3 linked regions of the Homo sapiens genome follow. The protein of the gene in region 1 purifies or fractionates together with the protein of each later gene. This does not show direct contact. Each region holds a gene or a part of one and is shown on either strand. Other genes may lie near its edges.

Evidence for each region.
Region 2: the proteins of ICOSLG (region 1) and CLCN3 purify together in Homo sapiens (affinity purification with mass spectrometry; one large-scale study listed by BioGRID and IntAct). This does not show direct contact.
Region 3: the proteins of ICOSLG (region 1) and MAN1B1 purify together in Homo sapiens (affinity purification with mass spectrometry; one large-scale study listed by BioGRID and IntAct). This does not show direct contact.

Annotation. Positions count from the first base shown.
Region 1 is NC_000021.9:44,223,814-44,227,463, reverse strand, and holds part of ICOSLG (ICOS ligand isoform a precursor), read left to right. Parts: 3' UTR 1-3,650. UniProt on the Homo sapiens protein: Ligand for the T-cell-specific cell surface receptor ICOS. Acts as a costimulatory signal for T-cell proliferation and cytokine secretion. Also induces B-cell proliferation and differentiation into plasma cells.
Region 2 is NC_000004.12:169,623,481-169,627,130, reverse strand, and holds part of CLCN3 (H(+)/Cl(-) exchange transporter 3), read right to left. Parts: intron 1-3,650.
Region 3 is NC_000009.12:137,106,786-137,109,785, reverse strand, and holds the end of MAN1B1 (endoplasmic reticulum mannosyl-oligosaccharide 1,2-alpha-mannosidase), read right to left. Parts: coding exon 2,977-3,000; intron 2,537-2,976; coding exon 2,339-2,536; intron 2,256-2,338; coding exon 2,124-2,255; coding exon of another isoform or gene 1,824-2,123; exon of another isoform or gene 1,408-1,823; intron 1,399-1,407; coding exon 1,195-1,398; 3' UTR 603-1,194; downstream 1-602. UniProt on the Homo sapiens protein: Involved in glycoprotein quality control targeting of misfolded glycoproteins for degradation.

The sequences.
Region 1 (3,650 bases):
AACAGTTGTCATCACCGGGCATTGATTGGCAGGGACAAGGAGCTGCTTGGGTGTGGAAAGTTGGGGCGTTGGAAAGTGGGCTGTGGTGCCCATTTGCAGTGACTGTGAAGTGACTCCAGGACGGACCTGCGGGGGCACCCAGAGGTCCTAAGCCCCAGGACTGAGGGTCGTGCATCACCACTCGGGTGTCCCGGGAGGTGCCCTGGGCCCGGGGACCTCACAGGCAGGACGGCGACACTAATGCAGGGAGAGGGAGTCTGGCCCCAGCTTTTCCTATCAGAGGCGATTTTCCTTCACCAGGGGATGGGCAGGAAAGAGGCAGGGGCCCCAGAAGCTTCTGTCCCTCATGCCTGAGGGCACGGGGGACACTTGGAGGCTGCTGTCACCACTGTGCGTCCAAGGCCATGCTCTCTGCGGGTCAGTGCCTGAGTCTCGCCTCCCTGCTGGTCCCTGAAGCCCCCTCAGAAGCCCTGCCTGTCACGTCGGCATTTGTGAGACCTACCCTGTAACGCCTGCCCCTCTCAGCCCAACATCAGCTTCCTCTTTCTCCCTTGCTGTAGACAGGCTGGATTCCAGTGTTGGGACAGCCATCTCCAGAAACCTGACTTAAGAGAGTAAGATGCAAATCGTGCCTGTATCCAGTGGCTTTGGTGGGTGCAGGGAGTCTTGGGCACAGCCAGCTCAGCTGTCTGTGGTATGAGCAGGAACAGGTGCCACTCCTGCTCAGGGGACCCTGCCCTACACCAGGCTGTTCCGTCCCCCTGGAGGACATGGGGCCAGGTCTGGAGGCATTTTGGGTTGTCACAGCTGGGGGCTGTTCCTCGGCTTCAGCGGGTGGAAGCCTCAGATGCTGTTCAACATCTTCTGGACACGGGAGGCCCCGACAGAGAGAAGCGTCCACCCGCAAGTCCACAGTCTGAGGTCTCCCCTCAGAGACCCTGCCCTGCACACCCACCTCCAGCCAAAGGTCCTGCCTGCCCCAGGGCTCAGGGGAACCTTGCCGGTCTGTGGAACAGGAGAGGGGACTCTCGCCAGCTGCACCACCCTGCACGTAGTAGGTGTGCGGTAAACATCCACCAGGGAGGCTCCAGTCAAGGCTGGCAGATGGGGCGGTCCATCCCTAGGGCAGGTGACAGAAGGGAAAAGGCTGCCTGCTGGCCCCCGAGCCAGGTAGCACATGCTTGTGCCTCAGTTTCCCCTCCTGTAAAGTGAGGCGCTGGATCCAGGTTCTGTCTACTGGGCTCTGCAGCTTGGACGCTCCTAAGACCAAGCGACCCACCCTGGGGAGGGCAGCTATGGCTTTGGAATAGCTGTCCAGGCCCGGGTGCCTCCAAGACGGCCACCACACCCTGCCTGTGCTGCAGGGGTGCAGGGGTAAGGGGCAAGACTCCAGAGGCCTCCTCTCTGCATCTCCTTGTCTTCAGTGGCCGGAGGTGAGGCCTGAGCTCAGGGGAGGGGCTTCTGCCACGAACCCTATGGCGGGGCACAGCACACTTTTCCCAGGGAGGACCCCTGGGCCCCCTGCATTATCCCCAGCGGAGTGTGGGGTCACCTTCCAAGAGCGACATTGAGAAGCTCCAGCTCTAGGAGTGTGCAGACTCTTAACCAGGCAGGCCCAGGCCCTGGGGCACACAAAGGCGGGGCCTGCTCTCCCCAGCTGCCCCTGCCAATGGGGGCTGGACTGTCCTACCCTCCTCCCTTCTACCTCCCCACTGTCTTCCCTCTCCACTGTCACCACTGCCTCCCTCTTCCACTGTCCTCCATGCACTGCCCTCCCTCCACCTTCCCCCACCCCCACCACTCCCCATGCTGTCCCCAGGCTCCCCCCGCTCTCCCCCCTCCCCACTGTCCCCCTCCCCATGCTGTACCCAGCTCACCCCGCTCTCCCCTCTCCCCACTGTCCCCCCTCCCACTCCCCATGCTGTCCCCAGCTCACCCTACATGGACTTGGCGATGTCCTTCCATGGCTCACCGGTCTGAATTTCCATGATGAGCCGGGCCTGCAGCTTTGCTCCCCTATCCCTGCCCAGGCTGCAGCTGTCCATGCAGGGAGCGAGCTCCAGCACCTGCGGAGTCCTTCCGTGGGGGCCTCTCCGTGCCACAGCAGCCAGGGACCTCAGGTGCCTGTGCATGACACCACCGCCCATCCTCATCCTGAGCCAGCCTCTCAGGATCAGGACTTGGTTTGGCGGCGTTAACCTTAGAGCCTGCAAGGGGCTTCCTCCTGGTGGGTCTGGCCGTAGCCTGGGGAGGCCACAGCTCCAGGCCACTCCAGACCTCCCTTCCTCTGGGCCTTCCATGTGGTGGCAACCACCGCAGCTGTAAGGGAGGGAAAATGGAGCGTTTGTTCTCGGGCTGGGCTGGGGTCTGGGGGAAGCCATGGGCGTGAAGACTGGAGTATTATTTGATGGAGAAGCGGCCACTCCTGGAGACCGGCGGCAAACACAGAAGCACAGCGTGGAAGGTGCTGGTGTCAGCCCACACGGGTGATGGGGTCAGACTCAGGAGTCACACTCAGGAGTCACCAGGCTCAAAGGGCCCAGGCACCGCAAGTCCTGCTCAGCCCCAGACACAATGCATTCCTGTTGCCCTCGCCCTCAGCCAGGCCCCACGCAGGCCAGGGAGCACTGGCAAAGCTTGGCAACCCTCTGGGGGCCAGCCTTCATCCAGGCCGAAGGTGGTCAGTGGCCCACCATGGCCCAGGTAGAAAACTCACGGATTAAGATTTCATGCCCGACTCCAAAGGCAAGAGACTTTATTATTTTATTTTTTTTGAGCCAGAGTATCGCTCTGTCACCTAGGCTGGAGTGCAATCTCTGCTCATTGCAACATCTGCCTCCCGAACTCAAGCAATTCTGCCTCAGCCTCCCAAGTAGCTGGGATTACAGGTGTGCGCCACCATGCCCAGGTAATTGTATTTTTAGTAGAGACAGGGTTTCACCATGTTGGTCAGGCTGGTTTCAAACTCCTGACCTCAAATGATCTGCCCACCTCGACCTCCCAAAGTGCTGGGATTACAGGTGCGAGCCACCGCACCTGGCTACCAGACACTTCAGAGTTACAGGTTAGTTTTTCTTTTTCTTTTATTTTTTTTTTTTTGGCGGAGGTGCAGGGGGAGTTAAACAAACAAACAAAATAAACAGGCCGGGTGCGGTGGCTCATGCCTGTAATCCCAGCACTTTAGGAGGCCTAGGTGGGTGGATCACGAGATCAGGGGTTCAAGACCAGCCTGGCCGAGATGGTAAAACCCCGTCTCCACTAAAAATACAAAAATTGGCCAGGCACGGTGGCTCACACCTGTAATCCCAGTACTTTGGGAGGCTGAGGTGGGCAGATCACCTGAGGTCAGGAGTTCAAGACCAACCTGACCAACATGGAGAAACCCCATCTCTACTAAAAATACAAAATTAGCCAGGTGTGGTGGTGCATGCCTGTAATTCCAGCTACTCGGGAGGCTGAGGCAGGAGAATTGCTTGAACCCAGGAGGCAGAGGTTGCAGTGGGCCAAGATGGCGCCATTGCACTCCAGCCTGGGAACAAGAGCGAAACTCTGACTAAAAAAGAAAGAAAGAAAGAAAAAAATTAGTTGGGCACGGTGGCAGGCGCCTGTAATCCCAGGTACTCAGGAGGCTGAGGCAGGAGAATTGCTTG
Region 2 (3,650 bases), on another chromosome or scaffold:
TAAGAAACTTACATACTCATCTATACACAGGGGAAACCATGAAGAACTTTAGAGAAATCACATGATCAGACATGAATTTTAGTAAGCCAACACTAGCAGCAGTGTGAAAGCCAGATAAGAAGGGTAAGAGACTGAAGGACTACAGATAGAGAAGCTGGAGATGAGACTAGACGTCTGAACAATTCTAAACGTAAGATAGGGCATAACTGAATTAAGAGTGATATGATATATATTGGTTTTCATCCATGGTTCCTGGTTTATAAGTCCCACAGCTCTTATTACATTCTTTTTTAATATTAAATTTAATTTTATATAAGTAGAGACAGGATTTCACTATGTTGGCCAGGCTGGTCTCGAACTCCTGGCCTCAAGTGATCCGCCCACATCGGCCTTCCAAAGTGATGGGATTACAGAGGTAAGCCACTGTGCCTGGCCTTACTACAGTCTTTTGTATAATGTTGGGGCACATTAAACCTCAGAAAACAGAATCTCTTCTCTTGCTGACCTTTTCCTGCCCTCCTTTCCACCAACCCAAGGCAGAACTCTAATCTTCCACAGCCTGTCTGACTGTGGGTCATAAGACCTTCCCTTTAGAAGGGAGCTTGCCCCAGACCCTGGAAGAAGGAATGCTGCAGACAGGCAGAAGAAGTTGGACAGGCAGGCCTTGCTGGGTTTCCCCACTGGGTCTATTAGTGCTGTTAGGTCATACTCTTTTTGTCCAATCACATTTCTACACAGTTGTTGACTGTGCCTATGTAATGAAGCCTCCATAAAAACCCAAAAGGAGTGGATTCAGAGAGCTTCTGGATAGCTGAACATTGGAGGCTCCTGGAAGGTGGCGCACCATGGGAAGGCATGGAAGCTCCATGCTCTTTCCCCTATCTCCCCCTATGCATCTGTTCATCTGTATCCTTTGAACATCCTTTATAATAAACCGGTAAGTGTTTCTCTGAGTTCTGTGAGCTGCTCTAGCACATTAATTGAACCCAAGGACGTAAGGAGTGGGGGGGTCATGGGATCCCTGATTTATAGCCAGTGTTATCAGAAGCACAGGCAAAATCAAAATAACCTGGGGCTTGCGATTAGCACTGGAAGTGGGGGAAGTCTTTTGGGAACTGCCCTCAACCAGTGGTGTCTGACACTACCTCCAGGTACACCGTATTGGAACCGGGGGGCACCCAGTTGGTATCTGCTGCAGAACTAACTGGTTGGTTGCTGTGGGGGGAGAAACCCCCAAGCATCTGGTCACAGAAGTCTTCTGTGTTAATTATTGTTGTGTTGAGTGAGAGAATTAAAAAATACTTTGGCTGTGATTTTACCCTGCTCACTAAGACACATCAATATTGAGAAGCAGAGAGAGTTTGAAGAAATATTTAAGAGGACCTGGTAATTAATAAGATATAGGGAATGGTAAAGAAGAATCTAAGATATCCACTAAGGTTCCAACTTGATTAACTGAAAACAGTTGGCAGAAACAAATTTCAGTCTCCTGCAACTCACAGAACTCAAGACCAGCGTGTTCTTTCCAACTTTAGGATTATATGTCGAGGCTTTAGTTTCTATTCCAGGTCAGACTATAAAGAAGGTTACCTCCATTACACTGACCTGAGCCCCAAAACTGCAAACACTAAGCAATATGCCACCAGAATTTGGGGAGGGGAGCAAAAATAGGAAAACCATGGAAATGGGTGGCGAAAGGATCCACAGCCTGAGATATGCACACTAATTTTTCATGGTTCCCAACAAAGTTTTGTCTCTCCCATAAAGGAGACTGACTGGGTACAGCTGAGGACCACATCTAATTCCCAAAGGTGTGTCAGTCAACTCTCTGTTAAGCTAAAAAGAAAAGTGGATATAAACTGGGTGAAAGAAGAAAAAGATTGTCAATGTCAGCAACTAGAGAGATGGAACAAAAGTCTCAAGAGCAACGATGGCAGAGAGGTGAAAATCTGAGCTAGCCATTTGTATGTAAGGAGCATTTTCATATAAATATTGTAAAAACTGTGCTAAGTACTAGTCACAGATTGAAACGTGAAAAGAGGCCAGGTGCAGTGGCTCACACCTGTAATTCCAGCACTTTGGGAGGCCGAAGTGGGCAGATCACCTGGGTCAGGAGTTCAAGACCAGCCTGGCCAACATGGGGAAACCCCGTCTCTAATAAAAGCACAAAAATTAGCCGGGCATGGTGGCGGGCACCTGTAATCCCAGCTACTCAGGAGGCTGAGGCAGAAGAATAGCTTGAACCCAGGAGGCAGAGACTGAGGATAGCTGAGATCGCGCCACTGCACTCCAGCCTGGGCAACAAGAGCAAGACTGAGCCTCAAACAAAAGAAAAAAAAATGTGAAAAGGAATTTCAACATAACTTATTCATTTACTAACATTTATAGAATAGCTAACAATGTACCAGAAATTATAATAAATATGAACACAGTTTTTATTGTATTAATGCCATTATATTTGTATAGGCCCTACAGCTTTCAGTAGACTTCAGCATAAATTACATTATACATTTTCCTCAAGAGGGATGCTGTAATAGCTTTCTAAAAATTAGTATGTATTCCAGCCCAGTGCAGTGGCTCATGCCTGTAATCCCAACACTTTGGGATGCCGAGGTGGGCAGATCACATGAGGTCAGGAGTTTGAGACCAGTCTGGCCAACAGGGTGAAACCCTGTCCCTACTAAAAATACAAAAATTGGCTCGGCACGGTGGCTCATGCCTGTAATCCCAGCACTTTGGGTGGCCGAGGCGGGTCGATCACCTCAGGTCAGGAGTTCAAGACCAGCCTGGCCAACATGGTAAAACCTTGTCTCTGCTAAAAAGACAAAAATTAGCCAGGAGTGGTGGCGCGTGCCTGTAATCCCAGCTACTCCAGAGGCTGAGGCATGAGAATCGCTTGAACCCAGGAGGCAGAGGTTGCAGTGAGCAGAGATTGCACCACTACACTCCAGCTGGGGTAACAGAACAAGAGTCTATCTCAAAAAAAAAGTCACTACTATACCATAGGAATTAGTGTGGTCTACTGATTACATTAGCACTGGGCAAGGTTCAGTTTAAATCAAGTTCTCAGAGTACCCAAAGTAAAATCAACATATCTAATCCTTGCTATACTGACCTAATTTTAAACTGATTTTATAGGATTACTTTTCTTTCTTCCAATACAGTGATTCATCTTCTGCATTTAAGGTCGATATTAGAGATATCTAAAAGGATCTATGATGAATGGATAAAGAAAATGTAATATATATACAGAATGGAATACCATACAGCCTTTAAAAGGAAGAAAATTATGTCATTTTCAAAAACGTAGATTAACCCGGAGGACATAATGCTAAGTGAAATAAATAAGACACAAAAAAACAAATACTGCATGATCTCACATATGTGTAAAATCTAAAAAAAAAAGTCAAACTCAGGGAGGCAGAGAGCAGAATGGTGGTCTACAAAGGCTAGGGAGAAGGGGGAAAAAGGAAAGGAGAGAGGTTAGTCAAAGAATACCAAGTTTCAGTTAGAGGAGTAAGTTTTAGAGATCTATTGCATGCCACGGTGACTATAATTAATAATAATGTACTATATACCTCAAAATTGCTAAAAGTTAATTTTAAACGTTCTCACCACAAACAAATGGCAAGTAGGTGATATGATGGACG
Region 3 (3,000 bases), on another chromosome or scaffold:
CGGGGCCCGGACGTCCCGAGGGGCGGAGCTGGCAATCCTGGGCTGGGTCCGGGTAGCCCTGCCCTGTGCCGCCACCGGCTCTGGCTTCCCAGGGAAGGGGAGTCTTCCGGAAGTGAAGGTGATGGATTTTTCACAGGGGAGAGCGAGGGGGCGTGGTCCTAAGAGGTCACCTGGTTCAGGGTCGGGGGGAACCCAGCCAAGGCCCAGGGTCAGCCCTGGGATAGGGACAGCAGTAGAGTGATGATGAGGACAACTCTGCCACCACAGCCCAGGGCTCGGGGCCATAGCCATGCCAGGCTGCTGGGAGCTGCCTGACCTGAGGGCCCGTGTATCCCTCAGCTGTGCGCCTCAGTGCCAGCCCTGCAGGGAAACAGGCCCTGTGTGAAACGCAGGCGCAAGGATGCCTCCCGCCAAGCATCTGCCCCGTGGGGCCAGGGACACGGAGCTTCCCCGTGGCCTCTCCCTGCCCACCAGCAGGGGACAGCTAGAGTCCAGTCTCAGCAAACCGAATTCTGAGACGTGACTTGAAGAATACCTTCTCCCCAACGTCCGCCCAGACTTTCCAGTCATGGAGATCCCTAAAGACACAGGCGACATCGCGGTTAGAGCAAATCAACTTTTATCTCCACCGAAAAGACCCATTCCACTGGAGGGGCCCGTGAGCTAGACGGACTTGCCGTCCAGCCCTCCAAGCCCCCTGCGGGGCGGCCAGGAGGATCCCTGAGTCCAGCTTGTAAACACCAGAGCCAGCCCTGGAGCCTCAGGCCTCTGGAGTCACGGCAGCCCCTCCAGACCCTTGGATTGGGGACATCTGAGGCTTCACGAGCCCGGGCAGAGCTGCACCCTGGGCTGTCCACTCGGTCACCCCAGTACCAGGGACCACCTCGAAGCCCCCCTCTGGTCGGCCCACAGAGACCTGCTCAGGCTTCAGCAATCGTGAGTCATGATTCGTGTCTTCTGGAGGAAGCAGGCGGAGGCTCCAGCGGCCCAGCCCACCCCGCATCACACCAAGACTGACGGCCTCACTTGTCCTCACGGTGTCCTGATTAAAGCAGAGACGAGGAGGAGCCCAGAGCCAGTTCAGAGCCTGGGCCACTTGGCGGTTGCCGGTGCTACGTGGGCCCTTGGAAAATGCCACAGACCCAGCAAGGTGCCTCTGCCCACCCGAAGTCCCCACACCAGCAGCCATCCACCCTAGGCAGGGGTCCAGATAGGCAGAGGGTGGGCTTCGGTGTTGAACACGTAGGCATCCAGGCTGAGCAGGTTTGGGTCATCGGAGAAGAGCAAGAACAGATACTTGAGCGTCTCCCCCAGGAAGAAGCTCTCCATCTTGTCCCTAGGCTCGGGCTTCTGAGGATCCTGGACATTGTTGATGGAAGAATAGCCACCCGAGGGGACCTGTGCAGCAGCCAGGGCCTCGTCACCACACGGGGGGCACCCTGCACCCCCCTCAGCCTCATCACCGAAGCGCTCTCCACCCCATGGTGAATGTGGCCCCCAGCGCAAGCTCAGGGTGGAGGGCGCCTGGATGATGGCCACCCCCAGGCGAGCCGTGTGGTTCCACCGGAGCCCACCTGGAAATGCCAACAACCCTCAAGTGACCACGACAGAAACCGCCTCCCCCAGAACCTGGGCTCAGGGGGCCTCACAGTTGCCGCACAGGGCACAGGGCACAGGGCAGACGGTGGGAGCGGAGGCAGCGGGGGCCTCAGGCCAAGATCACAGCAGAGCCAGGAAGTGACACTCTGGCGTGGAGGGCGTGACCTAAAACAGGGCCTGGTCCACAGTGGGGATGGTGCCCCAGTCATGGGTGCGTGTGCCTCCTAAACTGGGGGGATGCTGGGCCCACAGCAGAGACCCTCCCTAGACAGGCCCTGAGAAATGAAAATGAGGGGTGCCCAGCCCCTCCAAGTACTCTGGGTCCCACAACCATGAAGCTCAGTGGGGATGGGGATGCCAGGGCCCCCAAGCTGCAGTGTGGCCACCCCGAGGCTGCGGCAAGCCCGCCCCTCCCGGATCCAGGTCACAGCCACCACCAAGAGCGGAGCCAGCCTGAGCCCCACAGCCCAGCCGTGCCTGTGGCCCGGTGGCCGTGACCACGCGGGGCGAGGACAGGTGCTCACCCGTGTGAATCGGCTGAAGCTCTGCAGAATCTCCCAGCCCCAGTCCTGGTATTTGCGGTCCCCTGTGACGCGGTACAGGTAGAACAGGCTCTCCACGGTCTCTGGCCGCAGCAGGTTGTGCCTGTCTGCTGGCTGTGGGCGGAGCAGAGCTCAGGGCAAGGCCAGCCCTGCCAGCACCCTCCTCCTGATGGACCCTGACCCAGGCCCAGGCCCACCTTGACCTCCACGTCCCGACGGCCCGGCTGGGGGTAAAGGTTGAAGTGCACGATCTCGGGACTCAGCCCCGTCTCCATCTGCCGGTTCATCTGGTAACAAGTCTCCATGAGCTCCTGGGCCAGCTCCATGTGGCTGGCGGGCAGGCCGTGGTAGACGCCCAGAGCCAGCGTCCCTGGCAGGAAGCACACCAGGTGGTCCTGGAATCAGAGGGTCTCTTCAGCCCCAGATCCCAGGCCCTGCCCTCAGCCTGCAGCTGCACGGGCAGCCAACGTGGGAGCCCAGCGCTGCCTCGGCCCTGGTACCCTGGGAGGGGAGGCCACGCGAGGGCACTTGGCATGGAACAGCGGAGCTGCCTGGACCAGGCCCTCCAACCCGGCCCCCACACACCGCCCGAGGACCTGCTACACACCGGGCACGGGGAGGGAGCTGCCCTGGGGAAGCCCTGCCCACCCCAGGTGCCACACAAGGCCTTACTGCCCTGTTGCCAAGACAGGCCTGGCCAGGCAGCCACGGTCCACCCAGGGCCTCCACGTGGGCGCCATGGCCAGGATTTCGTTCTTTTTGACATCATGACTCAGGCACCTTGGAAGCCAAGGTAAAAGGGGCGGCGGCCGGAAGGCCCCGCAGACACACTCACCATCTTGGCACTGAAGCGGCCGTG